Regions from separate parts of the Homo sapiens genome. Here regions 1, 3 and 4 are each reported to be linked to region 2. The links are microRNA targets in miRTarBase. Many come from high-throughput screens and were not tested one by one. Region 2 holds a microRNA gene; each other region holds the end of a gene's coding sequence.

Region 1 (7,000 bases), not on the chromosome of region 2:
CTCGAGCAGGATTTTGTAAGAATCACAGTAAATGGATTAGCTGAATCCAATCAAATTATTTAGGAACCTGGGAGGTAGGGAGTAGCCATGCCTATGGGTGGGAGACAGAATCAAAACAGATTTTAGTATCATGTAATGGTATAACTTTAACCCAGAAAAAAAAGATTCAAAACCAACCCCTCTGAAGGAAATGAACCTGAAGCTTTCTGTTTTCACTGTGATTATAAAAAGGGCTGTTTTTTCATTTGGTGCTTAGAAAGAATTGTCCCAGACATAAGCAGCTCCAGCAAGAGTTCAGCACTTCTTTCCATCATACAAGTTCTGTTCTTTCCCAGGGCTGCCCTTGTGTCTGGTTATCTCTCTTCCTGCAAGGACTGCAAAGACTGGATGCATGTTAGATTGGGAATCAGTTAAAGACACAGGATTTAATCTGCCATACTGGGGAAGGTCTCAAACCTGTCACATGGCTTCATGGTATTACGGAAAAAGGACGGACTTTGATGTCAAAAAGTTCTACAGTCACTGGGAGCTGCGGTGGCTCAGGCCTGTTGCCCTGGCACATAAGGAGGCGAGGCTACGTGTTTGAGGCCAACCTGGGCAACATAAAAACCTCTCATCCATTCAAAGAAAAAGAAAAAAGAAAAAAAAAGTTCTACAGTGAAATCCCTGCATTGTGTGCTTTAGGCAAACCACTTGAGCTTTCTGAGCCTTTTGGGAGCCTTGTCTGGACTTGGTCTCTACTGTCCTAAGTACTCACAGTGGAGCTAGGCTTCCCTGCATTCACCATCCTACTGTCTAAAGAACAGGAAGAGAGACAAACGAGATAAGCTCTGACCAAGTGGGCAGTACTTTCTCCTAGAGATAGGTCAGTCACTTTCCATTTCCTAAAACTGGGCTTTCACCATTCACACTGGGAAATATCTGTGATATACTCAGGCCCTGCATCTGGTTCCCTCTGGCCACGTGATGAAACCAACATCAGAGCTTTCCAGGAAACAAGGCTGGTCATCAGGTTGCAGAAAACAAGCAGATAAATACTTGACCGTCTCAAATCTCTGCCTCCAAAGATCACCGATAAAAATGAGCCAGCTCTCTTATTTCAAGAAAGCTTGGGTCTTTGGCTTAGAAATCAGAAGACAGGCGGCTGGGTCCGCGGTGGCTCATGCCTGTTATCCCAGAACTTTGGGAGGCTAAGGCGGGCCGATTGCCTGAGGCCAGGAATTCGAGACCAGCCTGGTAAACATGGCGAACCCTGTCTCTACTAAAAACACAAAAACTAGCCAGGCGTGGTGGTACACGCCTGTAATTCCAGCTACTCAGTAGGCTGAGGCACATGAACTACATGAATCCAGGAGGCAGAGATTGCAGTAAACCAAGATTGCACCACTGCACTCCAGCCTGGGCAACAAAGCGAGACTGTTTCCAAAAAATAAAAATAGAGTAGGAGCTAGACCAGCAAAGGGGTAAGAGCATATTCCAGATAGGGGGCTCCCAACTATGGGCAAAAACATAAAGGAAGCTCAGTGCTCTTGGCAGAAAAGTTCAAAGTAAAGGGTGGAAGGTTACAAATTAAAGAGGCCAGGTCATGGAGACTGTTAGATGTTACATTTAATGGCTTGGACTTGATCTTTTAACTCAGTGGCTGACAAGCAAGCTGCAGTATACTGATGTGTTATGAATCCACTATAAGCATACTGCCAAAGCTTGACCAGAATGTAAAAAAAAAAAAAAAAAAAAAAAAATATATATATATATATATATATATATATATATATATATATATATATATATATATATAAAGCTAGAATGAACCAGCAAGTAGGCAAAAGGCATAGCATAATATCAGGCCACAAATATTATATGTTTAGCAAAACATTGAAGATCTTTGCTTTATAGCTATGTAAAAACATGTCATTGGGTTAAGATTTCATCTCTGCCATGGCTGGAAAATAAATTAGGGGACAGATTCTCATGTTGGTTTGTCCAGTTTTCCCCTCAAGTACAGATGCTGGTGAGGGAGCTTTTTCTTTCTTCCACATTACTACCACTTCCACTTGTTCTGGGCCATTTAAGAGGTTCACATGGGGTAATCCACATACAGTAAAGCAAAGCTTCAAGATCCAGGCTGCTTTCACTGCTGCTGTGTGGCCTGCAAGCAGCTGACAAAGGCCTCCAGGAGTGTGGGTGGAGAGGAACTTGGTGTGATGAGATACTGGGGAGGGGGGAAGGGCAGCTAGAAAAACAAAATGTCTCAATTTACCTCCAAATTTTTCCTCCTAAAGCAGCAAATCATTTTAATCCAACAGTATACCACTGAGGTGAACAGTGATAAAGCAAATGATACAAAGATCACAGAAACTTTTAGCTGCCAAGGAACATCATACCGGCATACCAACTCACTGTAATATTGCTGGCCTGGTAGTTGCTGGTGTGTCATCAGGATAGGTCCCGATCGACCAGTTAACCGACCCTTGTTCTAGTCTCACTATCTCTGAGATAGAGTATTTGGAGGCGGCTGCTTTACCCTGGGGACGTAAGGGTGATAAATGAGTCCGTGCTCAAGGTTCATGTCCTCTATGCTGTAGTAACACTGTATTTTTTTTTTTTTCCGAGACAAGAGTCTCGCTCTGTTGCCCAGGCTGGAGTGCAATGGCGCAATCTCGTCTCACGGTAACCTCCGCCTCCTGGGTTCAAGCAATTCTCCCACCTCAGCCTCCTGAGTAGCTGGGATTACAGGCGTGAGCCCGGCCAATAACACTGTATTATACTGACTGATGACATTCACCCAGTTCAGATGAGGTGGTCCACAGCCTATAATCCAGACTAACCTATCTGCAAAACTATTCCAATCTAATGGAAAAGAGTAGACTTCAAGGATGGCAGTTGTGCTTTCTGAGGGGTCCTTATACCTACTCATCCCACCCTACCAATCTACATGCCCGAGAAGGTAAGTGATGAGTCAGCCTGGTGCATTCAGTTCCACAGTAAAGAAGCAGGATCATCTAAGTATCCAATTTCCTTATGATAAGGCAGGGAAAAACCATCCCTTTTTTTCATTAGAATCCAAACTATGATAAAGGAGACAGAAAGACACCAGCAAATTGAGCAAAATGTTTACATTTATATTGAAATATACACTAAAACAGAATGAGTTCTACTAGTCAATGAAACTTTGCCAAAGCAAAATCACAAACTTCCAATGGGGAGGTCCAGTCAGCTAGCAGCAGTGATCCCCAAGCAGGAACACCAAGAAACCTGGGGGACCCCTCTCCAAAAAGCCTCCTTTCAAGAGGCCCTAACTCACTTCTCCCACATGCACCCACACGGATTTAGGAGCTTGGACATGCTCCTCATTTCCATATATTTTTAGTTTCTTCTTCACTGCAATAAATATAAAGTTGGCAATGCTCATACACCACAGCACAGACAATATTTCAGGCTTTAGCATACAATTGTAAACAGTGACTAGGTTAAAAAAATAAAATAAAGTAAGTTGGACTTTTTTTTTTTTTTTTTTTTTAAACAGACAAAATTCCTAAGAGCCGGGCATGAGCTACTCAAGATTTGTTTTGTTGGGTTAAGGTTTCTGACAAAAGATTCTGGTTTAGGCAGATGCCCCTGACAGTTCAAGTAGCCTCACGGTGGTAGCCAGAGCGCTGTCTACGGCGACCGAGAACACATGGACTGGAAGACAGCCTGCCCTAGATCACCCGTGGCAGTACATCTTCAAGCTGCCACATTCAACATATGACCACAGACATCTTTATAGTTCCATCACTGGCTGCCATCTAGTATAGCAGGAATGCGTGGGCGAAGGAATACAAATTTGCTGGGAGAGGAAGAGAATAGTATCTCTGCTAGCTGCCTGGAAAGTTGGCCCCTTAATCACAATGACAACTAGGACATTTCACTTGGACAGTGCATTAAATTTATAGATTTTTTAAAAAGTACAAAGACTAAGCAGTAAGTTCTGTCACTGACGCAAACTAGGATGTCAAAGAAAAATAGATTAACTATTTTTACCTAAAGTAGTGCAAAGAAATCTGGCAAAAAATGAAAGTGAACTCAATATCTGCACATCAGTAATGGGGCAGAATTTTATTTAAAAGGCTAGTGGTTCAAATACTATTGCTTGAATAGCTCTGGTAGATATAAAATGTAGTAACATCTGAGGTTTGTACACATGAGCAAAGGAGCTGAGGGCCAGCTCACAAAGGGATATTTGATCCTCAGTCAAGAGAGAAGCTAAAAGCGCATGCTGCAGGAGTAACCTAATGGATTTATTTGGACCATACTCCCACCTTCTGACAAACAGAAAAAGACGTGGATAGAAAACTGTCTTTCCACACACAAAAATCTGGCTTAATTCTTCTTGCTATACAACTATACCTCAGCTAAGAAAAAAATCTCTTGTGAAAAACTCAACCTGGGCTACTAAAAATAAAAAGGAAATTTTTAATGTCGTAAACAAGTTTAGTAAACACCATGTGGATTTTCTGTTGTTAATGAAGACATGATACATTCAAAAAAGTATGTATTTTTTAAAAAGAACAAAACCAAAAAATTTTCTAGAAAGAGACTTCACAAGAAAAAAATGAGCCCAAGGTTCATCCCTCAATCAGAAATCGGTCTTAGCACGCATCAGTAAGCCCTCCTCCAACATACAAAAGCACTGAAATTTGCCTTTCAAGTACGTTACTGAATTTAAACATTAAGCGGAATCACTGCAGAGCATATTTTGATGGGTTACTTCAATACCCACCTGGTCCAGTTCAAAATATCTATAGATCCAGTTTGTACATATTCCACAGGTATACTGATAAAATCATCTATTATCCCATTTTTTTTAATGGCAGTTCTTATATAGCTCGAACATTAAGATCAACAAATTCTCAGATGAAGTACATTAATAAGACACCTCAGAAGTGAAACAAACCTAGTTTTTACTAAAATGATGGGATAAAGGTAGTGTCTATGCTGAAGAGCAGCTTCACTTGTTTCCCCACAGAAAAAGGCCCAAAATTTTTGGAGGATAATTTAAAAACTAAGCCAATAAGGCCAGGCACGGTGGCTCATGCCTGTAATCCCAGCACTTTGGGAGGCCAAGGCGGGCAGATCACCTGAGGTCAGGAGTTCGAGACCAGCCTGGTTAACATGGCGAAATCCCGTCTCTAATAAAAATATAAAAATTAGCCGGGCATGGTGGCATGCACCTGTAATCCCAGCTACTCAGGAAGCTGAGGCAGGAGAATCATTTGAACTCGGGAGGTGGAGGCTGCAGTGAGCCAAGATCACACCATTGCACCCCAGCCTGGGCAACAGTGAAACTCCATCTCAAACAAAACAAAACAAAAAACAACTAAGCCAATAAAAAAAATAAAATATACACCTTAAGATATTATAAAACTTGAAATAATGTCAGGTGCTATGGAATGGGAAACAAGAGTTCTGAATCCCCCCACCCCCAAAAAAAACTGTTAACAGGTTTTAAGGGAAAAACAAAACCAGAACTCCGAATATGAACAGCAATACACAGAATCTATAGCACAGAACACCACACAAGAATGAGTTTTATAGCAGTACTATCATGAGAGTAACTGGCTGGAGACTATACTTCCAGCAACAGGGCTCCTAGGTCAAAAATGTGTTAAAAGCTTGTAATGTCAACAAGAACCAAAAAAAAAAAAAAAAAAAAAAAAACGGGGTGGCGGGGGGAATGAAGGGGAAAGGGGGGCATGAAGGGGAATAAGGAGGAAAGGCTGCATGCACGGGTCTATTATAGACATGATATTCAGCAGCATAAAAAATAATACCCTCCAAAGAATCCCTCTACTGGGGCAAAACCTGTTTTTCACTGCTAAGCATGGAAAAGATTAAGAAAGCAGAACAAATTCACTTCTAACTATAGCATCTTCCATATATCAATGACAAGCATGTTCAACCTGATGCTACATGTTAATAAAATATTCAGTATACATAAGAATCTAAGCAACATAAAAACAAAAGGCTAAATTATGAACCTTAAAAAAATTGGAGAAAACATGTTTTAAAGCCAAGTAGAATGATTCTGATAATTATTATATATGACATAATCCACAGAAAGGCCAAGAAAAGAATCTTCATATTGTTCAGTATTTAGGCTTGATGTTGTCCCAAGAAAACAGTGATAATAATTCAATGAATGTGTTACACATACAACTAAAAAGTCCCCTTCTGGTTTCAAATGAATTTAAACAACAATCTTCCTTGGCTAATTTTTCTCCTCTGTCAAACAAACCTTCTATGTACAGGACCAGTTTAAATCCCTCCTCCCCTTCAAACACTAGATATGAACATCCAGGAACATTCTACAATGCAAAGTGCCTTAAGAAAGAGAAGGATTCTGTAGTGCCAGTGATAGAACTGATCTGAGGAAGCTGAGATGCTATTAACACTGATAAGAGCCAGTCAGGCAATGGTGGTTTGTTTCTCCTCAGGTGTTTCCTCCAACAACTGCATGATCAGTTCATGCAGGGGTTTGCAGATCTTTGCATAGCCCCCTCCTGTCAGATGCAGAAAATCAAACATGTCGTGGCAGGAGATGGCACCGTCCGAGTGCACAAAACCCCCGTCGGTATCCAGGAGCTGCACGTTGGCAAGCTTCGGCAGCGAAACCTTGAGGAGTTGGTTCACCTTGGCGTTCTTTTGCCTCAAAGGATTGGGTTTCTCACCTCGAGGTAACAAACCCTGGGGCACAGTGGAAAACATTAAATTAGAAGATTCACTTATTTTTCTCTACTTATTATTTATAACTTCAGATATTCCTGGAACATCTCCATTTGGCACTTTCTACACCTTTGAGTTGTGAAACATTGGAAAATACTGTTTTGAATGAAAGCTAACCATTTCTTCTTAGTTTTTTCATGGGTTCCCTTCCTCCTGTCCCTTAACTGTTGGTATTCTTCAAGGACCTGTCCTCTGGCCCACTACTCTAAATACTTTAGCCAGATCTCTTCCTAGA
Region 2 (7,000 bases):
CTCAGTAACGGCGGCGAGAATTGCCCTCATTACGTGGCAGAAACACATTATCTTCTTTTACTTATTACTATATTAAAACAATTGTGGTTGCCAATTTATTTAATTTGCCCACCAAAACCAAAAAAGATTCTGAGACATTTCTGAGCCCTTAGTTGCAAGCTGTAATTGTATCCGCAGATGCCTGCATCCAAAATAGGCTGGCTTGAAACTTCCTTCTCATATTTGATGCCTTAAGCTACTCCCTAAAAGTGGAATAATTTTTCTTCTCCTTTCTGTGTTTCAGCAGTGTTTTGGACCTACACCAAGAAACTTTGATTAGCGTACATTGTTTCTTTCCAGGAAATGGTTTTGTGTTCTGTTTGCTTCAAAGTACATTGCTATGTAATTGTGTATATTTCAGTTTGTATACTTCATATCTCCATGAAATTGCACATTCCTTGCTGGCAGACATCATATAGTAACTTATTAAGTGACATTTACAGATCACTAATCTGGATTTAAAAAAAAAAATAAAAACTTATTGAGGTATAATTTATATGCCATGCAGTTCCCCCATTTAAACTGTATGGTTTGATTCCTTTTAGTGTATTCACAGAGCTTTGCAAACCTCACCATGGTCAATTTTAGAATATTTTTATTATTCAGAAAGAATCCCTGTAAGCCTTACCTGACCTACCAATTTCTCTTTCTTCCCACATCTTTTTTTTTTAAATTAAGACAGGGTCTTTGCTTTGTTGTCCAGGCTGGAGTGCAGTGGCACAATCACAGCTCACTGCAGCCTCAACCTCCCAAGCTCAAGTGATTCTCCCACCTCAGCCTCCCGAGTAGCTGGGACTACAGGCGCCCGCCACCATGCCCGGCTAATTTTTTGCTATTTTAGTAGAGACGGGGTTTCACCATGTTAGCCAGGATGGTCTCGATCTCCTGACCTCGTGGTTTGCCCACCTCGGCCTCCCAAAGTGCTGGGATTACAGGTGTGAGCCACTGTGCCCGGCACAGTTGGCTAAATTTTTTAAAAAATGTTTTGTAGAGACAGGGTCTCACTGTGTTGCCCAGGATGGTCTCAAACTCCTGGGCTCAAGTGATCCTCCTGCCTTAGTTTCCCAAAGTGTTGGGATTACAGTCATGAGCCACTGCACCTGGCCCATTTATTTATATTTTTGGTAGAAGTTTATTACTTGACTTTTCACCTTAGATAGTTATTTTTAAGCATAAAAGAATATTACACATTCTAGGTTTTTGTTTTTGTTTTTTTTTCTGGCCACTCATTAATGTATGTGTTGGGAAGCAGATTCTTCTGTTAAGAAATGCATTTATGAAAGTGTGTGGTACAGTCATTATTTTGGGACCTCTTATCCATTAACTTATTTGCTATGAAATGTGTGATTTATTTGCAACGCATTATTATTTATTTTGTGAAATTACATTTTTAAAAAACAACTCCTAGGATATTGCTTAGTTCGAAGACTCTCATAATTCATTATTTTTTCTAAAATTTTACTTTATGAATCTTCTTCATATCCTTAATGATACTAGCTGCCTGTTGCTGGATCATCTTTAAATTCAGTTATGTGTTCGAGGTCCAGAGTCTAGAATGTGCATCAGATTTCCACATCTTCGTGTTTATGGTAGTCGTGAGATGGCTGTTGAACGCCTTACTATGTGCTAGCACCACAGAGATGGTAGCATCTCTAGCCCTCACAGACTTCTATAAGTTAGATAGTAAAGAGTTCTATAAGTTAGATAGTGTTTTTATCTTTTTACAGATGAGGATAGGAAATGGAGGCCAAGAGAGGTTCAATCACTTGTCCGAGGTTACAAGTAATTGGCAGAGCTGGGGTTTGAACTCAGGTCTGTGCTGCCTCAGCAGGCCATTGTGCTGACTGCTGTGACCACTCTGCTGCATTGCTGCCAGTTTCTGCTCATTAAGATCCTTTTGAGGGGTGTCTGCCTATCACACTGTCAATCTTGGAGTTTTATACACATGCACACACACTCTGCCATCTCTAAATCATTGCACTGTTTTGGACAAAACAGGTAATGAACCTAGTAGCCGTGACATGTACTTTTGTTATAAAGATGTGTTGGAACAGAGCAGTTGAAGCCCAGGGAAGGTGAATTGAAGAAGCTTTGCTGTGCATTTTTTGTGTGTTTTTATTTATGCCTTGACAGTTGTGATTGACTAAATCCTTTTAAATGCAATAAAAACTTCTCAGCATTCAAATACACAATTCTCTATCAAAAGTTAAGTTTAAGGGCCAGGCATGGTTGCTCATGCCTGTAATCTCAGCACTTCGGGAGGCCAAAGTGGGAGGATCACTTGAGGCCAGGAGTTTGAGAGCAGCCTAGGCAACATAGCAAGATTGTCTGTACAAAAAATTTAAAAAATTAACTGTTTGTGGTATTGTGCACCTGTAATCCTAGCTACTCAGGAGGCTGAGGCAGGAGGGTCATTTGAGATCATAGGAGTTCAAGGCTGCAGTGAGCTATGATCGCACCACTGAACTCCAGCCTGGGAGACAGAGTGAGACTCTGCCTCTAAGGAGAAAAAAAAAAAGTTAAGTTTAAAAGTACTGACTTAATATGTGACTCATCATTTTTCCAACAGATAAAGAGTTCTATCTGTCTTCTACGCGGGAAAATCTATGATGCTCTAGATAACCGAACCCTGGCTACCTACAGCTACAAAGAAGCTTTGAAGCTTGATGTCTACTGTTTTGAAGCGTTCGATCTTTTAACATCACATCACATGCTGACAGCACAAGAAGGTTTGGAAACTCAGGCTTTTTTGTTTTATGTTTAGCAAAATTAATATTGTTTGGATTTTTTGCCTCTGAAATCTTCTAAGTCAACAACAGGCCACATACAGGTTTAAATAGACCTACTCACTTTCTTAATGTCTTCAAATGTAAAGCACGTTGCAGAATGCAGTATTGTACGGTGCCTTGTGCTGTCCGAATCTAGGGATTGTGATAGGAAGAGGCCATCTTTTTGAGAAGTGATTGAGATAGTATAAACCAGGATTTCAGTATCTCATGCAGTGATTCTCAACCGTGTTGCTCTTTACATCCTTGGGAAGACAGAGAAACATCCATGTCCAGTTCCCAACTCCAGAGCAGATGCTTTAAAGCTCCCAGGTGATCCTAATGTACCACAGGCACTGAGAATCAGTCCAAGTATGTTGGCAGTGGTGTGAGGTGCGTCAACAAGGGAAACAGAAAATAGAGTGGTTGGATTAATGGGATTCTAACATATTTTAGCCTAGTGCAGTGGTTCTCAACCAACCAGAGTGATTTTGCCGCCCCCTGCCCCGGGAACAGTTGGCAATGTCTGGAGATGTTGTTTGTCACAGCTTAGGGGCAGGGAGGGAGGTTGAGAGGTTGCTGCTGGTATCTAGTGGTTAGTGGCCAGAGGTCCTGCTTAGCACCTGCAGTACACAGGCTCCCCTGTTCCCAGCAGAGCAAGATCCACGCAGTCAGGAGTGCGGAGGCTGGTGGTTCTTAGGTGACAAGAGCCACCTGGGGACCTGCCTCAGCCCTGAAAGAGTAGCCTCCACCCACCAGATGATTCCCGTCTTCAGGCCTGGAGCCACTGTGTCAGCTTCTGTTGCACATTTTGATCTTATGTTCTCTTTTGAGTTTGATTTACTTAGACCAAGAACTGTAGAATCATATTTTTAGTTGTTGGCTTTTTCCCCTCTATAAATATTATGAGGATATTCTTTTTTTTCTCACCATTTTTAAGAAAAAGAACTTCTTGAATCACTACCCCTTAGCAAGCTGTGTAATGAAGAACAGGAATTGCTGCGTTTTCTATTTGAGAACAAATTGAAAAAAGTAAGTAAAACCAAAGAGTTAGCACTTGCTTTATGTAAATATCTTATTCCATAAAATTTGGCATCTAGTCTTATATTAAGTTTTCAAAATTAAAACTTTTTAAATTTAGCACATTTTTAAGAATAGAGCGTTTAAGATACATAAGATTCCAAAAAAAAAAAGCTTTCAAAAATACCTTTTTCCTCTGAAAGACTCCTTATACTAAAAGATTGAATTACCAAGTAAATGTAAATGGAATGGTGTTGCATGGAAATGAAGATTTTTTTGTTATGCTTCCTGAATGTTTACTTTGAGAAATACGTCCCGCTGTGGAATTCTGTTCTAAAATTGAGAAGGGAATTAAACTTACTGAGAGGAGTACTTATAAAACCTAAAGTTATAAGTTTTCAGAGGCTCTCACATTTGTTCTTGTAAATGTTTTAACCACTTGGGCCAAACACAAATTGAATCCACATTTTATTTTGTTTTTGCTCATTGAGTTTATGTTTACATTTCTATGTGTTTCAGTATAATAAGCCTAGTGAAACGGTCATCCCTGAATCTGTAGATGGCTTGCAAGAGAATCTGGATGTGGTAGTGTCTTTAGCTGAGAGACATTATTATAACTGTGATTTTAAAATGTGCTACAAGCTTACTTCTGTGTAAGTATATCCATCCATTTTTCTGTAGGAACATGGAGTTCACTCCATCTTACCTAGGTGATTCACGGACGTGCTCTCTGAATAATCTTGAACTAGATGATAATTTAAGTTATCTTTACCAATTGTAGAGCACTGAACAGGGTGCTGTCTTAAAAGAGCAATTTACAGACATGAATTTGTGCATATTTGTAGATTTATTACATTAACTTGGGAGGGATATACATGTTGCTCTTACTGATCTTGATAATTTGCAAGTTTGAAAATTCCATTTTGGCACATTGTTTTGTAAAATTTATTCTCAATTATGAGACTCACACTGTAGATACTAGGTGTTTAATATGCTGCACGCAGTAGCTAAGCCATCTCCCACATGTATCAGTTTTCCAGTGTACCTAATTTAAACTTTAGCTAAATGACATATGCTATTTTTTGTAGATCTTGGTTCGGTTTAAAATCCTTGAAATTACAAAAATTTTAATTGGCAAATACACATAACCTATTTATTAGTTTGGTGCAAAAGTAATTGCAGTTTTTGCTGTTGAACGTAGTGGTAAAACTGCAGTTATTTTTGCACCAACCTAATAGGATTTCCTGTTGGTTTTGATTCTTTTAAATAAGCGGCCTACTTATTTTATGTATTACAATTCTGTTGACTTAAAGTAAATGTATGTGATAATGTTTATTTTTATTCCTTTCAAATAAACCAGAATTTTTTCTTTCATTTGTAACTTAATTATGGCCTTAACTGAATCAACCTGAAGATAATGGAGTGAAGAAAGTGAAGTGTTACAACCCACAGCATCATATGTGATACCATAATGACTGTCTACACATAGCCGATCGTCGTGAGTGCTGTCACCTGCTGGTTTGGGGGTAGTAATGTGTCGCTTTAACTTTCAGAGTAATGGAGAAAGATCCTTTCCATGCAAGTTGTTTACCTGTACATATAGGGACGCTTGTAGAGCTGAATAAAGCCAATGGTAAGACTTTTTTTTAAATTAAAGTAATTCTTAGACATAAAACAAATCTTTTCTGTAACTTGAAATTTTGTCTCTGAAATTCTGGATAGTTGAGATTGCAGGTAACAACATAATGGAACCCTACTATAAAAGTAACAACTGGGGAGGAAATGTTTAGGAAAGTAGCAAATGGCCAATTTTGTTTTCCCATCAGAACAATTAGTTCTTTATCACTGCTTCCTACTACCTTTTCTCAAATATCATTTATGTTTCAAGGTTTGTTAGCTTTAAATTGTTGGGTGTCAGTTCTGCCTCCCCCCCCCTTTTTTTTTTTTGTAAATTCCACTGGAAATCTGATATGGTAAGAGTTGATAACTACTTAGAAATTGGAAAGGAGCAGATTGTTTGCTCATGTTTTCCGTATTTTTAACATTTGACATTTAGTTGTGTTTGGGGATGCATTTGTCCTTAAATTTTTCTAAACTGAATGGTGAGCTCTGTCAGGAAGGAAAACCCTCACCGAATCCCTGCTGCTCAGAGTGTGGTTCGTGGACCAGCAACATCGCATTTGTGGAAGCTGGTTGGAAATGCAGCATCTCCAGCTGCTCTGGTCTACTGAATCCAAGTCTGCATGCAGGAAACATCATCTTGAAATGCCAGGATTTACACATTTCTCAAGATTAAATAGTATCATTGATCTGATAAACTTGAAAGTTTGTTCAGCCAAATTGGTTGTGGGTGATTATGATGGTCCATAATGGGCCCTTGGTGTGACAGGCATGAGCTTCTAAGAGAGGTGAGGTGCTTTGCTGTATCCTCTGCAGTATTCGGGAAGTGCTGTCTTAGGGGGTGTCTGTTCCCACCTTGCCCACAGTGTGTCCTTCATCTAACTCTCCAGTTAGAGAGTTAATTTTTTATCTAGAAGGAAAGACAAGTATGAAATCATTGCTGTAAGAGCAGAATTATATGATTGTGAAGAGTTGTAATGAAATCATGTCTTAAATTACATGTGATACGAACAATTGTTCTTTTTCTGCTTTTTCCTGAACAGAACTTTTCTATCTTTCTCATAAACTGGTGGATTTATATCCTAGTAATCCTGTAAGTAATATAACTTTTAGTCTTAGTTTTTTTTTTTTTACCTGTACTTTAAGAAAATGCTTAACTCGTATTTAGACAATAGCTTAAGTTCAAGCAAATGATGTTTTATTAAAGTGTTGCAACAGAATCTCCTAGTGTTTATTGTACTTACAAAAGCAGCATTAACTTTTCAACCCATGAAGGTATTTTTTAATTATACCAAAGCAAAAAGGTTTTTAAACCCTTTTTTCTGATTATAGAAGTTATACATGCTTATTTTAAAATACTTAGCGTATAGCAATATAAAATACTGACCATGACAGTCACGCCTCCCTTTCCTAAGAAATGTGGATAATTGTTTGGCAGCTTTCTCACATTGCACATGTAAGACAACCTGTTGAATTGTGTACTGATTCCAAACTGTCATGGATCGGAATGGAGAACTAGGAATGGAAAATGGAATCAGGGACTGCGTCTTTAAGGA
Region 3 (7,247 bases), not on the chromosome of region 2:
GCCGAGATCACACCACTGCACTCCAGCCTGGGTGACAGAGCAAGACTCCATCTCAAAAACAAAACAAAACAAAACAAAACAAAACAAAACAAAACAAAAAAAGACTCTTGACTGAAGTTTTCAGAAAGCAAATCCAGTCCTTTCTTCCAAGACCAAGCTCTTTAAATAATGTGTGTAAAATACTTGGCAGAATGCCGGACACAGCAGACTTGAAAGTGTCAGCTCCTTTTCTCCTTCCCCTCTATTCTTTTCACTATTCACAATAGTTTAAATATTCCTCTAGATCTTAACAGAATTGATATTTTCACTTTTAACAATGAAATAAGCTTTTTATCATTAAGATGTGTCAAAAGGTAAGCTGTAGTTACAGAGAAGTAACTAAGCTAATTGGAAATAAACTTAGAAAGATAAACTATATAATCCTTGTTAGTGACAAATTTTAAAGAAATTAGTCTTGCCAGGATTAAATTAAGGAATTGGTTTTATACTTTGTAACATTCCTACAAAAGACACATCGAGTGCCCCAAAGTTTGACCCTAATCGTGTTGCAGAAAGCAGGGACATTTAATTTCTAGTAGAAAAAGCCCCAGCAAACTTCTTTAATTAGATTTTGAACTAAAGAGAAGAGGCTCATGGGTCCTCCCTATTCTCACAGTAATTTCCTCACACTTTAATGTTTTCATGGGCTCTGACTGTTTAATCTACTAACAATAACTATTCCAATGTTATTCTAGGGAGCTCTGTTGTTGAGCGAGAAGACGTACCAGCCCATTTGGTGAAAGACATTCGTAACTATTTTCAAGTGAGCCCGGAGTACTTCTCCATGCTTCTAGTCGGAAAAGACGGAAATGTCAAATCCTGGTATCCTTCCCCAATGTGGTCCATGGTGATTGTGTACGATTTAATTGATTCGATGCAACTTCGGAGACAGGAAATGGCGATTCAGCAGTCACTGGGGATGCGCTGCCCAGAAGATGAGTATGCAGGCTATGGTTACCATAGTTACCACCAAGGATACCAGGATGGTTACCAGGATGACTACCGTCATCATGAGAGTTATCACCATGGATACCCTTACTGAGCAGAAATATGTAACCTTAGACTCAGCCAGTTTCCTCTGCAGCTGCTAAAACTACATGTGGCCAGCTCCATTCTTCCACACTGCGTACTACATTTCCTGCCTTTTTCTTTCAGTGTTTTTCTAAGACTAAATAAATAGCAAACTTTCACCTATTCATGAGTTATTATTGAAACCTCAAATCATAAAGACATTTAAAAGAATTGTTTTTCTAACTGGAGGGGCTCTAGTGCTAAATAATAGTACTGAAAATTGATATTATTTTCCTTTTCTTATATGAAGGACCTTATTTGGCATATAAAATTTTATAAAATATGTATTTAAAGCTTTTTCTTATTTTTTGTATTAATTGGTAAGTGAAAACTCTGTTAAAGATCACACCACAATGTTTTCAAGAAACATCTGAAAAGATAAAACAAAGAACAAATAACTTATAATACTTACTTAAATTGACACTTTTTGAAATGCCAGTCTGAAAATAATTAAGATATCTCTGCTTTGTATGAGTTTCTTTTATGAAACTTGATACCACGGGAGTCCAGTAATATTGGCCACAAAAGCCAGAGAAAGTACCAAGCCCAGCTTTGTTATCATAGCCACTTCCTGCCCTGCTTCTGTTATTTTTAGTGTTTTTTCAGATATAAATCGGGGTCCAGGAAATCCTCACCAGAATCTGGCACTGCAGCCAAAGGCGATACTTCCAGAGTTCTAGTAGGCTGCTATGGAATTTCTGGCATGAAAATTCTTGACCCCTCACACTTTACCCCCTGTACAGCACAGGCATACCATGGAGATATTACAGGATCAGTTCCAGACCACCATAATAAAGTGGATATCGCAATAAAGTGAGTCACACAAAATTTTTGGTTTCTCAGTGCATATAAAAGTTATGTTTACACTCTTTAGTAGTCTATTAAGTGTATAATAGCTTTATGTCCAAAAAATGTACATGTTTTATTTTAAAAATACTTTATTGCTAAAAATTGCTAATGATCATAATCTTTTTGCATTGATGTTGATGGCTGCTGAATGATCAGGGTGGTGGTTACTGAAGGTTGGGGGTGATGGTGGCAATTTCTTAAAATAAGACAGCAATGAAGTTTGCCACTTCGATTGACTTTTTCTTCATGAAAGATTTCTCTGCAGCATGTGATGCTGTATGATAGCATTTTACCAGTAGTACAACTTCTTTTGAAATTGGAGCCAATCCTCTCAAACCCTGTTGCTGCTTTATTAATGAAATTTATGTAATGTTGTAAATCCTTTGTTGTCATTTCAATAATGTACATAGCAACTTACGCGAGTAGATTCCATCTCAAGAAATCACTTTCTTCGTTCATTCATAAGAAGCAAGTCTTCATCTATTAAACTTTTGTAATGAGATTGCAGCAATTCAGTCACATCTTCAGGCTCCACTTCTAATTCCAGTTCTCTTGCTATTTCCACTATGTCTATAGCAGAGCTTCCTCCAATGAAGTCTTGGGCCTCTTAAAATCATCCATGAGGGATGGAATCAGTTTCCGAACTCATTGATCTTCCTATTTTGACCTTCTCCCATGAATCACGATGTTCTTAACAGCATCTAGAATGGTGAATCCTTTCCAGGTTTTTAATTTGCTTTGCCCAGATCCATTAGCGGGATCACAATCTGTGACAGTTATAGTCTTACGAAAAGTGCAAATGACTCCTTGATTCCTGTGCTGCACAATAGGTATTGTGTTAGCAGGCACGAAAATATTAATCTCCTTGTATATCTCTATCCAAGTTCTTGGGTGACTGGGTATATTGTCAGTGAACAGCTATATATATATATATTATAGTGGTCTGGAACTGATCATTTATATATATATTTTATATACATATATAAAATATATAATATATATTATATATATATATATTTTTTTCGAGATGGAGTCTCGCTCTGTCACCCAGGCTGGAGTGCAGTGGTGCGATCTTGGCTCACTGCAACCTCTGCCTCCGGGGTTCAAGTGATTCTCCTGCCTCAGACCCCTGAGTAGCTGGATTTACAGGCGCCCACCACTACACCCAGCTTATTTTTGTATTTTTAGTAGAGATGGGGTTTCACCATGTTAGTCAGGGTGGTCTCGAACTACTGACTTTGGCCTCGGCCTCCCAAAGTGCTGGGATTACAGGCATGAGCCACTGCGCCCGGCCCGAACAGCAATATTTTTAAAAGATTCTTTTTTTTTCTGAGCAGTAAGACTCAAAAAGTGAGCTTAAAATGTCCAGTAAACCATGCTGTCCATAGACATGCTGTCATTCAGGCTTTGTTGCTCCATTTATAGAGCACAGGCAGATTAGATTTAGCATAATTCTGAAAAGTCGTAGGATTTGGGGAAATGGTAAATGAGCATTGATTTCAACTTAAAATCACCAGCTGCGTTAACTTCTAACAAGGAGTAAGCCTGTTGGTTGAAGCTTTGAAGTGAGGCATTGACTACTCCTCTCTAGATACGTAAGTCTGAGATGGCATCTTCTTCCAATATAAGGCTGTTTCATCTCTTTTGAAAATCTATTGTTTAGTGTAGCCACTTTCATTAATTATCTTAACTAGATCTTCTGGATAACTTACTGCAGCTTCTACATCAACATTTGCTGCTTTACTTTGCACTTTTATGGATGCACAAGGCTTCTTTTCTTCAAACTCATGAACCAGACTCTGCTACCTTCAAACTTTTTTTCTGAAGCTTCCTCACCTCCCTTTAGCTTTCATAGAATTGAAGAGAGTTAGGGCCTTGCTCTGAACTAGGCTTTGGCTTAAGGGAATTTTGTGGCTGGCTTGATCTTCTATTCAGATGACTCAAAGTTTCTCCATATCAGCAGTAAGGCTGTTTTACTTTTTTATCATTCATGCATTCACAAAGTAGCACTTTTAATTTCCTTCAAGAACTTTTCCTTTGCATTTACAACTTGGTTGTTTGGCATAAGAGGCTTAGCTTTCAGCCTGTCTCAGCTTTTGACACACCTTCCTCACTAAGCTTATTCATTTCTAGCTTTTGATTTAAAGTGAAAGATTGCAACTTCCTCTCACTTGAAATACCTGGAGGCTATTTTAGGGTTATTAATTGATCTACTTTCAATATTGTGTCTCAGGGACTAAGGAGGCCTGAGAAGAAGGAGAAAGATTGGAGAAAGGTTGGTTGTTGGAGCAATCAGAACATACACACATTTATTAAGTTTACTGTGTTATATAAGTGTGGTTCATGGTGCCCCCAGTAATTATAATAGCAACATCAAAGATCGTTGACTACAGATTTTAATAACAGAGATAATAATGAAACAGTGTGAAATATGGCAAGAATTACCAAAATGTGACACAGAGACATAAAGTGAGTACATACTATTGCAAAAATGATGTCAACAGACTTCCTTGATGCAGGGTTGCCACAAACCTTCAATTTGTAAAAAATGCAGTATCTGAGAAGTATAATAAAATAAGATGTGCCTGTACTTACTTGCTAATGGACCTATTACCATACTGGCATCTTATAAAAAAAATTACAAGGAAGGAGATTATATCCAGGGATTCTTTTTGTTTTCAAGGCAAAGGTTACCAAGTTACAATGGACCAAAGTAGCTGGAATGCAAAGGAGTATAATCCTTGTCTTTGAAAAAAGAGCATTTGTTTCAATCATATGGCATATCAAAGTAAACTTTCTCCCTTCCTCCCTCCTTTCGTTGCTGCTGCTTCTTTTTTTTCTCTTTTTTTTTTTCTTTTTTTGGAGAGGGTCTCACTCTGTCACCCAGGCTGCAGTGCAGTAGTGCAATCTTGGCTCACTGCAAACTCAGCTTCCCTCAAACAATCCTCCCACCTCAGCATCCCAAGTTAGCTGGGACCACAGCCATGCTCCACCATGCCCAGCCATCCTTGCTTCTTTACTACATTTCTTTTTTCAACAAATATTTATCAAGTAATATTGTCAAGTAATATTTATGAGCTTCCCCTCAGATAGGCATTTAGCATCATGATGGCACCATCCTCTAACAATAATGGGAAGGCTATTTTCCACTGTTATTAATCATTAATTCTCCAAATCATTTTAGTATTATTATTAATTCTAATAAGTACAGAGATTAATAAATGCATTCAAACCACATGTGAATATTTGCTATAGGTTTATCTGTGCCTACTGTATGTTCAGATTTTTCTTTATATCTGAACTTTGTTATAAATAAATGACAGTAAAAATGGAATTTATAGTTCAATGAACTTGACAAATCACTTATTCTGCCATTCATTTTCCATAAAGACCATTCATTCTTCCTTGTTTTACAGGTAACTGAGCTCCAGAAAGCTCAAGTGACTTTAGAACTCAGTTCTTAGTGTGTGAATTATGCTCCCATCTCATCCCTCTTCCTTGATGGAGCACTTTCCTCCTCATTTTTTCTTGGATAGTCTGTACAAGCTGCCTGAGGTGTGCAGGAAAGTGAGCCACGTCGAAGTGTACTGCTTTTAAATTTTTGCCAGGATGAAGCATAGCCCAAAGTTGCCAATAAAAATGGATTTCTTTACCTTTCTGAAATTGTGTGATGACAATTTCTAAGTAAAGGACCCAAATCATGTCAACTTCAGGAAATATAATAATGAGGGAGCCAGGAGCAGTGAGGGGCTCACACCTGTAATCCCAGCACTTTGGGAGGCCAAGGTGAGCGGGTCGCTTGAGCCCAGGACTTCGAGACCAGCCTGGGCAACACGGCAAAACCCTGTCTCTACAAAAAAATACAAAAAATTAGCTGGGTAAGGTGGTGTGTGTCTGTGGTCCCAGCTATTCAGGAGGCTGAAGTGAGAGAATCGCTTGAGCCTAGGAGGTCGAGGCTTCAGTGTGCCGTGATCGTGCCACAGCACTCCATCATCATCATCCTGGGTGACAAAGTGAGACCCTGTCTCCCCACCAAAAAAAAGAGGGAGTTTCATCTCCCAAGAAAATGAATTAGATAGGAATAATAGAAAATTTACTCTCAGAATAATAGGGTTCTAGCTCCTGCAACCAAAAAAAGATAGTTCTTTTTTACAACCTGAGATTACTTTTTCAAGCATTTCTCCAGTTCCACTGGCATTGAAATAATAGTTAGCAATGCATCTGAGCTTTTCTTCCTCTAATGAGCAGGCAGAGAAGTCATAGATCATCATTTGGAGGACTATAAAATAAGACATAGCTTAGCAAAAGGACCAAAATACATTCAGAGGAGGATGCTATTGGTGAATGTCCTCAAAGCCTATAATCTGGAAAAATACAAGGCATATCTCTGAAACTGTGAGGATTAGCAAACTAGCTAACCTGAATCTCTGTCTTCTGGTAGTATAAACTAGGTAGTTTCAAATCTGAGTAGTTTCTCCATAAAAGCATTTCTTCCCAAACGTTTCTTACCAAACTCCCAAATAAATGAGAAAAATAAAATACAGTTTTATAATTTTTGAGAAAGATTATGGGATTATGGTATTTAAAAAGAAAAGCATTCTGTAGAGTTGGGGAAATCTGGAAGACTCTTGAGGACATAGCTTTGCCGAAATTGCTGGTTGTCACAAGACTCTTCAAAAACTACTTTTCATCAGACATCTCCCAGGGCTCTGAGGTGAATATTAATTCAGCAGAAAGATCCTTTTCTGCTACATAGGCAGGAGGTCCAGACACAGGGGAGTGGGTGCAACCCAGCTGGTCCCATTTTCTGTAATATAATTAACAATGAAGCTCATACTTTCTCAACTTCTAGAAGCCTGGAGGATGGAAGCAGCCCGAGAGTAGGGTGAATGATGGCCTCAGTGGGCCCTTCTTAATGTGTCTCAGTACTGAATGTGTGGAGATTGTAGAAAAATAGAAGGCCCTTGGAAAAAACCTCTGTTCGTTTCTCTGTTCGTTTCGCTCCCTGATCTCCCTGCCGGATTGCTTTTCTTTCCTTTCTCTTCCTTGGCTGTCCTTTACCTCATGGTGTGGGGTGTGCAGATAGCAGGTTGTGGCTTGGTGAGTGCTCTTCACTTCAGGTCAAGGTGAGGCACAGTTAACATGCTAACTACTTTCCTCAGTTCTCTCTGAGTTGTGTAAAGCTCCCGATGCCAGACTTCCTCTTAATTTTGCACATTATTAAAGTCCAAAGAGTTAAGATTTGGTGATGAGGGGCAAAGGGCCAGCTGTCACAGAAATCAATGAAA
Region 4 (7,247 bases), not on the chromosome of region 2:
TGGCGCTGGCCGCGGCCTTCCCGCCAGTGCTGGACGGCGGTGGCGACGACGAGGACGCGCCGTGCGCCCTGGAGCAGCGGCCCGACGGCGCCCCCGGCGCGCTGGGCTTCCTGCTGCTGCTGGCCGTGGTGGTGGGCGCCACGCACCTCGTCTACCTCCGCCTGCTCTTCTTCATCCACGACCGCCGCAAGATGCGGCCCGCGCGCCTGGTGCCCGCCGTCAGCCACGACTGGACCTTCCACGGCCCGGGCGCCACCGGCCAGGCGGCCGCCAACTGGACGGCGGGCTTCGGCCGCGGGCCCACGCCGCCCGCGCTTGTGGGCATCCGGCCCGCAGGGCCGGGCCGCGGCGCGCGCCGCCTCCTCGTGCTGGAAGAATTCAAGACGGAGAAGAGGCTGTGCAAGATGTTCTACGCCGTCACGCTGCTCTTCCTGCTCCTCTGGGGGCCCTACGTCGTGGCCAGCTACCTGCGGGTCCTGGTGCGGCCCGGCGCCGTCCCCCAGGCCTACCTGACGGCCTCCGTGTGGCTGACCTTCGCGCAGGCCGGCATCAACCCCGTCGTGTGCTTCCTCTTCAACAGGGAGCTGAGGGACTGCTTCAGGGCCCAGTTCCCCTGCTGCCAGAGCCCCCGGACCACCCAGGCGACCCATCCCTGCGACCTGAAAGGCATTGGTTTATGAGGGAGGCCCCGCCACATAGACCCCCAACCCAGCCTTTCCCTTTGGCTCGGACGGTGACGTTGTATCTTTTCCTTCTGGCCCCTGTTTAATTTTCTAAGCTGCCTTCAAAATGACTCGAAGTGGACAGACACTTGGATTGTACTGACTCCTTTGGGGGTGGGGTGGGTGAGGAGTAGGATGCTCAGCCCACTCCAGCTCCGCACATTCGTCCTCCTAACTCGACTTTCTTCCTGACAATAGGCCCTGCAGTCTTTTTGTAGCGGTACTGACGTCTTTTATTCCATGTGTGGTTCCTTTTTTTCTTTTTCTATAAAGGCTGTACTAATTTTCTTCATGCAACGTTTCCTAAAGACCATGGCCAGTTTTCTACAGAAGCTATTTTTGACAACCTCAAGTGGCATTACATTTTGCAGTGAAGTAGAGGAACCTAGGGGGACTTCTTCACAAGTTAGATTTCTTGAGGATCTTCTGTTGGAAGCAGGAGAAAGTGGGGGGTGGGGGGAAGTTGTCCGAAATGCCCTCTGAATTGCCGGCTGCAGGGTCCTTGTGCTGCGCTGGTTCTTTGAAAGTCTCAGTGTTGATATTGAACTTAAAGAGCAGAGATGGAGATCAGTAGCAAGGCAGTCATTTTTTTAAAGCAGTAAGTAACAAGTAAGATTTGGTTCCCGGTTTACTTTCTGCTGCTAAAAACCACGTCAGTGACAACTGCTCTCTGTATTATAGCAATCTTGAATGGAAACATTTCTGTCAAGTTGTAAGTTTTAAAAGAGTAAAGTGTTTTGGTTAGTAATGATGTGGAGAAAAATACAGTATTGCATGTGTTCGTGTGTATAGATTGTGGTTCGAGGATTGGGAGGGCTCTGAGAAGCAGAGTACTACATCAAAATTGTTTTAAGTATTTTTTGCCAATAAAAAATTAATTTTATGGAAATGGCTTGTGCTTTGAGAAGCCCAGTTTTATTCTGTCTTATGAAACTAATTTCCACTTTGAAAATTGTTCTTCTGTTGTTTATGGTATAAATGAATGGAATATAATGATATCCTCCTTCTAGGAAACAAAGCATTTCCTTAAAATGTTTGCTAGGTTAAGCTGTGCTGTTCTACTGATGGTTGTTTTAAATTAATAATGAGAACTATAATTTAAATAATATTTCTTTGTTAGACATTATAATGTTAAACTGAAAGACTAAATTCTGCAAGTACTATATAATATTTTTGGCTTATAATGCTACATTTTTATTAATGTACCTTCCGTTTTGAGGATTTATATCTGTATTTCTCTTTGCATTATACAAATATACCAGTATTTTCATTCTGGAGTGGTTGTTTTGTTGTGGTGGTGGTGGTGTTTGAGGCTGTAATAATACATGCGTCGAAGTATGTTACATGCCTCTAAGTATGTTATGTAAGGATAACATGCTCTATGATCCTTTTAGCACGTGTTCTTCAGTTACAGGTTTCATAGTTTGACCATCAGCATATCCAAGAAAAGTGGAGGCTTAATTTAAAATGCAAGATAAAATCTGCGAAACTTTTCTTTAAAGGGAAGAAGCAGTAGACATATATACGGCTTTAAAACTGTTTTTTTATTTGGATGACAACATTTCAATGACTATTCGTTAAATGACATAAAAAAGCTTTTAAGTAAACATATCAAACTCAAGTACAAGCGATCATTTTGATAAAAGTACTAGGTAAAAGTGGGGGTGGTAGATTATATTGAAATTTAGCTGAGTATAATATAAACTATTAAATGTTCAGTCCAATGGGAATAAGTTATAAAAAGAGTGTGGCCAATTTAATTGATCTCTGGTAAATAGGCTGCATGATTTTATTTTGTTGTGGAAGTTAATCAGTCTGTGAAGACAGTCTCACACTTGGAAAATATGAGACAGTTACCCTATTTCTCCCCACATCATGAATCCAGGTTGGCCTCAATCATCCAAGGGCCACTGATCGGAAACCTCAGCCAACCCCAAGATAGAGGAGCCCAGAAGTACCTCTCTCCTCATCTAACCCTCCACCTGCCCAAGTGATCTCAGTTCCAAATAGAGGTCGAACCAGTCTACGATGGCTCATGCCTGTAACCCCAGAACTTTGGGAGGCCGAGGCAGGAGAATTGCTTGAGACCAGGAGTTTGAGGCCAGCCTAAGCAACATAGCGAGACCATGTCTCTACAAAAAATCAAAAAATTAGCTGGGTGTGGTAATGTGCACCTGTGGTCACAGCTACTGGGGAGGCTGAGGTGAGAGGATGGCTTAAGCCCATGAGGTCAAGGCTGCAGTGAGCCATGACTGTGCCATGGCACTGTAGCCTGGATGACAGAGCTCTCGAGACCCTGTCTCAAAAAAGCCCCCAAAACAGAGATCACCAAGTCTCTGTGATTTTCCCACCTGGCATGGCACAGGAACCAGCCCATCATGGCTGACTCCTGAGCCACTCCAGCTTTGGGCAGCAGCTCAGCTGCACCAGAGGTGACGTGTTGGCCTGACATAGCCTTGAATTCAAGGGATATTTTGTCATATGAGAATTCATAAGCCAGAGGTTCTCAAATTCTAACATTCATACAAATTAAGTGTCTGTGTGATCCAGAGTCTTATGAGGACATGTTGAGTTGGGTCCTGGGGAAAAGCATTTCAACAGGTTCCTCAGGTGGTTGGAGACAGACCTCCAGGACTTCGTTCAGACATGATTTACTTCAGACATGATGCGTTCAAACTTGGCTACCTGGGTTTTTTATTTTTATGTTTTAAAGTTCTGATTAGATGGGGGAAGGCAAGATTTCTAGTGAGTGTGCAGGTGAGAGTAGCAAGAAATAACAGCCAACTAAAGGAAACGAGAACCAAAAGAGCCAGAGAAACAAGCTATGTAGCAGAAAGTGGGGAGGTGCAAAGGGCCACCCCAACAGCTTTTAGGATTGGTGAATCTATTAACATGTACTTTGATAGTTAATTACATTAATCAAAAATTATAAAAAAAAAAAAAAGGTTAGTTGTGTCCACAGTACTCTACTTATTGTACCAGCACAGGCACCATGTATTTAGGGAAGATTTCATTAAAATTGCTCATTTTATTTATTTGGGAAGTTAATTTAGCACAACTTCCCCACCCTCCCACGCAGTTGTCACTATACTTGAAGCAATGTAGGCTTCCCGTACATAGATCTTTGTCTGTATGTTCTAGCATGGAATTGCTGGGTCAAAAGAAGCATTTTTAGGACTTTTGATATCTTGTCAAATAGTTTTGTAGAAGGACCATATGTCTATATGTCTGTTTAAATGTACAGTACACCTGACATATTCTTTTTTTTTCTTTTGAGACAGAGTCTCGCTCTGTTGCCCAGCTTGGATTGCAGTGGCGTGATCTCAGCTCACTGCAACCTCCACCTTTGGGTTCAAGTAGCTGGGATTACAGCTCAGCCTCCCAAGTAGCTGGGATTACAGGCGCCTGCCACCAGGCCCAACTAATTTTTGTATTTTTAGCAGAGACAGGGTTTCGCTATGTCGGCCAGGCTGGTCTCTAACTGTTGGCCTCAAGTGGTTTACCAGCCTTGGCCTCCCAAAGTGCTGAGATTACAGGTGTGACACATTCATTTTTTAAATGAAATATTTTAAGCAAAGTGGGGAAGCATGTAACAAATCAGTAACAACAGTGATAATCTCTGTGTCCACTACTCAGCCTTACCAAATGCCATATTGGTTTCTACTCTTCCTTTTCTCTTTTCCCTTCCTTCCTTCTTTCTTCCTTCCTTCCCTCCCTCCCTTTTTTCTCTTTCTTTTTTAAAAAGAAATAAAACGGCAAAATTATTTCTCCGAAGTCTTTGTTCTCACCATCAGCCCTCTACATTCTCAAATGCCCTGCTCCCTAACAGGTGACAGGGTGCCAAGTCCTAGGGCTGACTCAGGGTTATTGTTTTGCAGGTGGATCACTGGGTTGATGAGATAGAGTCCACCCTGTTTTCCCAAGGCCTACAGGATGGAGGAGAAACCTCTTTGTCTGCCACAGACCTTTCACAGTCAGGCCCTCTACCACCCTGGCCTCATCCTTCCCTTGTATTCTCATCTCTCCCTTCTTGGATTACTCTTATACCAGCTCTCCACTCTTCCCGGAAAGCCCATTCCCACCTTTCTGCCTGACAATTCCTCACCAACTCCTCTAGAGCAGGGGTGTAAATTCACAATATTTAACAACTGGAATGGCACAGGCATAACTAATCTATACCACTGTACCTCCAAGTTCTGGCTGAACATTGGATCTTGGATCCAGGTCCAAGGCTTCTGGAAACCCTTCTTGGCTCAGTCATGCCTCCTCTGGGCTCCCAGAGTGCATGGTTTACCTCCTTGAAGTCTGCACTCCTGCGTCTGGTGCATCCCATCAGCTGCTGCTCCCTCTCCAGTCTCACTTCCTCCCACTCTCTCCTCAGGCCGTGTGACATGCTTCAGGCACTCCTAGTTGCCAGCAGTGCCTGAACAGACCACGCCACGTCACACCACCATGCCTTTGCGTACAGTGTTCCTCATGGCCAAAGCCCTTGCTCCTTGTCCCCCCTCAACTGCCTCTTAAACTTTCAGACATAAAGAGATAACTAAACATAAAGAGTGAATTCCTAGCCTCTACAGAAAGAGGGTGATGGTCCTGGGGCAGGCCCTACAAGATTTTCAAGGCTCCAAACTAAGTCATTAGATCCGAGCACACAGCTGGCTAAGTGGCAGACTTATTGTCTTACTGGTATTTTAGGTTTTCTGTGTGCACCGAGGTGGCTGGGGTTATAAAATGCAGCTGACCCAAGATACTGTTCTTCAGATGTGCACCCTGTGTGGGCTGCCAAGACCACTGAACTTCAGGACCCTCTCTCCCTGAGGGGCAAGGGAGGCAATGGGAAACCACCTCCACCCATCCACATCCGAGTCCTATTAGCTGCTTCAGGAGTAAATATAAGTAAAAGCAAACTTAATCTGACGCCAAGGGGTTCTTTATGCTTCTCCCCCAGCTGGGACGAGACTTTTGAGGCCTAACTCAGCCCATAAAGAGAACTCTTTTTCCTTCCCTCTTTACTCCTTTTGGGGTGATAGGATGTGATGCTTGGAGCCACAACAGCCATCCTTCAACCATGAGGGGAGACACTGTCAAGACAGTGAAGATAGCAGAACAGAAAGATAAAAAGTGCAGGCACCCATTTTAACATTCTTGAGTTGCTTAATTAGATTAGCAACCTCCTATCTCTAGACTTCTGGTTTTGAAATTAAAACTACTTTTGTTTCAGCCATTAGTAGTCAGGAAGCTTGTTAGTTGGAGTGACAAGAAACTGCAACAATACTTGAAACTACTGCATCTCCTTGACCCCTTTGCTAGGTGTGCCTGATATTCTAGAGCTGCATCCACAATTTTTTTAAAAATTTGGCTTATTAATATTTTTCAACTCTCTGATTGTTCTGCCTGCTGCTGTTAAATTAACCTGGTTCTAGAAAAATGAGATATATTTGGCATGATTTCTTAAACTGAAATAAGTCCAGAAGATTAAAAAGATACCTATTACTAGGTCAGTTCTGTTTAATTGCACTTTATGATACTTTTTTTTTTTTTTTTTTTTTTGAGATGGAGTCTCACTCTTGTCGCTCAGGCTGGAATGCAATGGTGCGATTTTGGCTCACTGCAACCGTCGCCTCCCAGGTTCAAGCGATTCTCCTGCCTCAGCCTCCCGAGTAGCTGGGATTACAGGCACCTGTCATTATGCCCAGCTAATTTTTGTATTTTTAGTAGAGACGCGGTTTCACCATGTTGGCCAGGCTGGTCTCCAACTCCTGACCTCAGGTGATCCCGCCACAGCCTCCCAAAGTGCTGGGATTACAGGTGTGAGCCACCGCACTGGGCCTTTTTTTTTGTTTGTTTGTTTTTTTGGACAGAGTCTTGCTCTGCCGCCCGGGCTAGAGTACAGCGGCATGATCTTGGCTCGCTGCAAGCTCCACCCACTGAGCTTAATTGATGCTCCCACCTCAGCCTCCCAAGTTGCTGGGACTACAGGTGTGTGCCACCACTCCCGGCTAATTTTTGTATTTTTAGTATAGACAGGCTTGTCTTAAATTCCTGGCCTCAAATGATCTGCCTGCCTCAGCTTCCCAAAGTGCTGGAATTACAGGCATGAGCCACCATGCCTGGTCTATGATACCTTTTTGATCCACTCATGTTTATTCGTTTGTTTGTTTGTTTGTTTGTTTATTTGAGACGAGGTCTCACTCTGTCTCTGAGGCTAGAGTGCAGTGGCACCATCATAGCTCAATGCAGCCTCCAATTCCTGGACTCAAGTGATCCTCCTGCTTCAGCCTCCTGAGTAGCTGGGCCCACAGGCATGTGCTACCACTCCTGGATAATTAAAAAAATTTTTCTGGAGAGATGGTGTATCTGTTTCCCAGACTGGGCTAACTTCTGGCCTCAAGTGATCCTCCTGCTTTGATCTCCCAAAGTGCTAGGATTACAGGTGTGAGTCATCATACCTGGACCAAACTTTTTTGATATCATAAATCTAATTACAGGAATCTGGAAAACCACCTGAATAAATCCATCTAACCA

Evidence for each region. The annotated mature microRNA hsa-miR-548ar-5p reads AAAAGUAAUUGCAGUUUUUGC and lies in region 2 at 4,993-5,013, shown strand. An mRNA with a match to its seed (bases 2 to 7 or 8) in the 3' UTR can be bound and repressed. Matches are read on the target gene's strand: a 7mer-m8 pairs with bases 2 to 8, a 7mer-A1 pairs with bases 2 to 7 and ends in A, and an 8mer does both.
Region 1: miRTarBase lists PAFAH1B2 as a target of hsa-miR-548ar-5p. Seed matches in the 3' UTR shown: 7mer-A1 at 4,025-4,031 and 8mer at 3,485-3,492.
Region 3: the mRNA of CCDC80 is a reported target of hsa-miR-548ar-5p. Seed matches in the 3' UTR shown: 7mer-A1 at 2,045-2,051, 7mer-m8 at 3,700-3,706, 7mer-m8 at 3,933-3,939 and 7mer-m8 at 6,122-6,128.
Region 4: miRTarBase lists GPR27 as a target of hsa-miR-548ar-5p. Seed matches in the 3' UTR shown: 7mer-m8 at 1,351-1,357.

What each region holds. Positions count from the first base shown.
Region 1 is chr11:117,167,147-117,174,146 of GRCh38, reverse strand. It overlaps PAFAH1B2 (platelet activating factor acetylhydrolase 1b catalytic subunit 2), which reads right to left. Exons shown (of 6, transcript NM_002572.4): 6 at 3,102-6,726. The coding sequence ends at 6,448. Among named protein-coding and RNA genes, the nearest start is that of SIDT2, 8.1 kb to the left of the region's middle.
Region 2 is chr13:114,239,513-114,246,512 of GRCh38, forward strand. MIR548AR (microRNA 548ar) reads left to right here and starts at 4,993; the gene lies at 4,993-5,049. CDC16 (cell division cycle 16) reads left to right here. Exons shown (of 18, transcript NM_001078645.3): 6 at 2,609-2,768; 7 at 3,745-3,836; 8 at 4,344-4,477; 9 at 5,378-5,457; 10 at 6,488-6,537.
Region 3 is chr3:112,599,251-112,606,497 of GRCh38, reverse strand. It overlaps CCDC80 (coiled-coil domain containing 80), which reads left to right. Exons shown (of 8, transcript NM_199511.3): 8 at 735-7,247. The coding sequence ends at 1,081. Among named protein-coding and RNA genes, the nearest start is that of CCDC80, 38 kb to the left of the region's middle. RefSeq lists an enhancer at 2,441-2,610.
Region 4 is chr3:71,754,498-71,761,744 of GRCh38, forward strand. GPR27 (G protein-coupled receptor 27) reads left to right here. Exons shown (of 1, transcript NM_018971.3): 1 at 1-1,999. The coding sequence ends at 680. It also overlaps a transcript of EIF4E3 not described here. Among named protein-coding and RNA genes, the nearest start is that of GPR27, 4.3 kb to the left of the region's middle.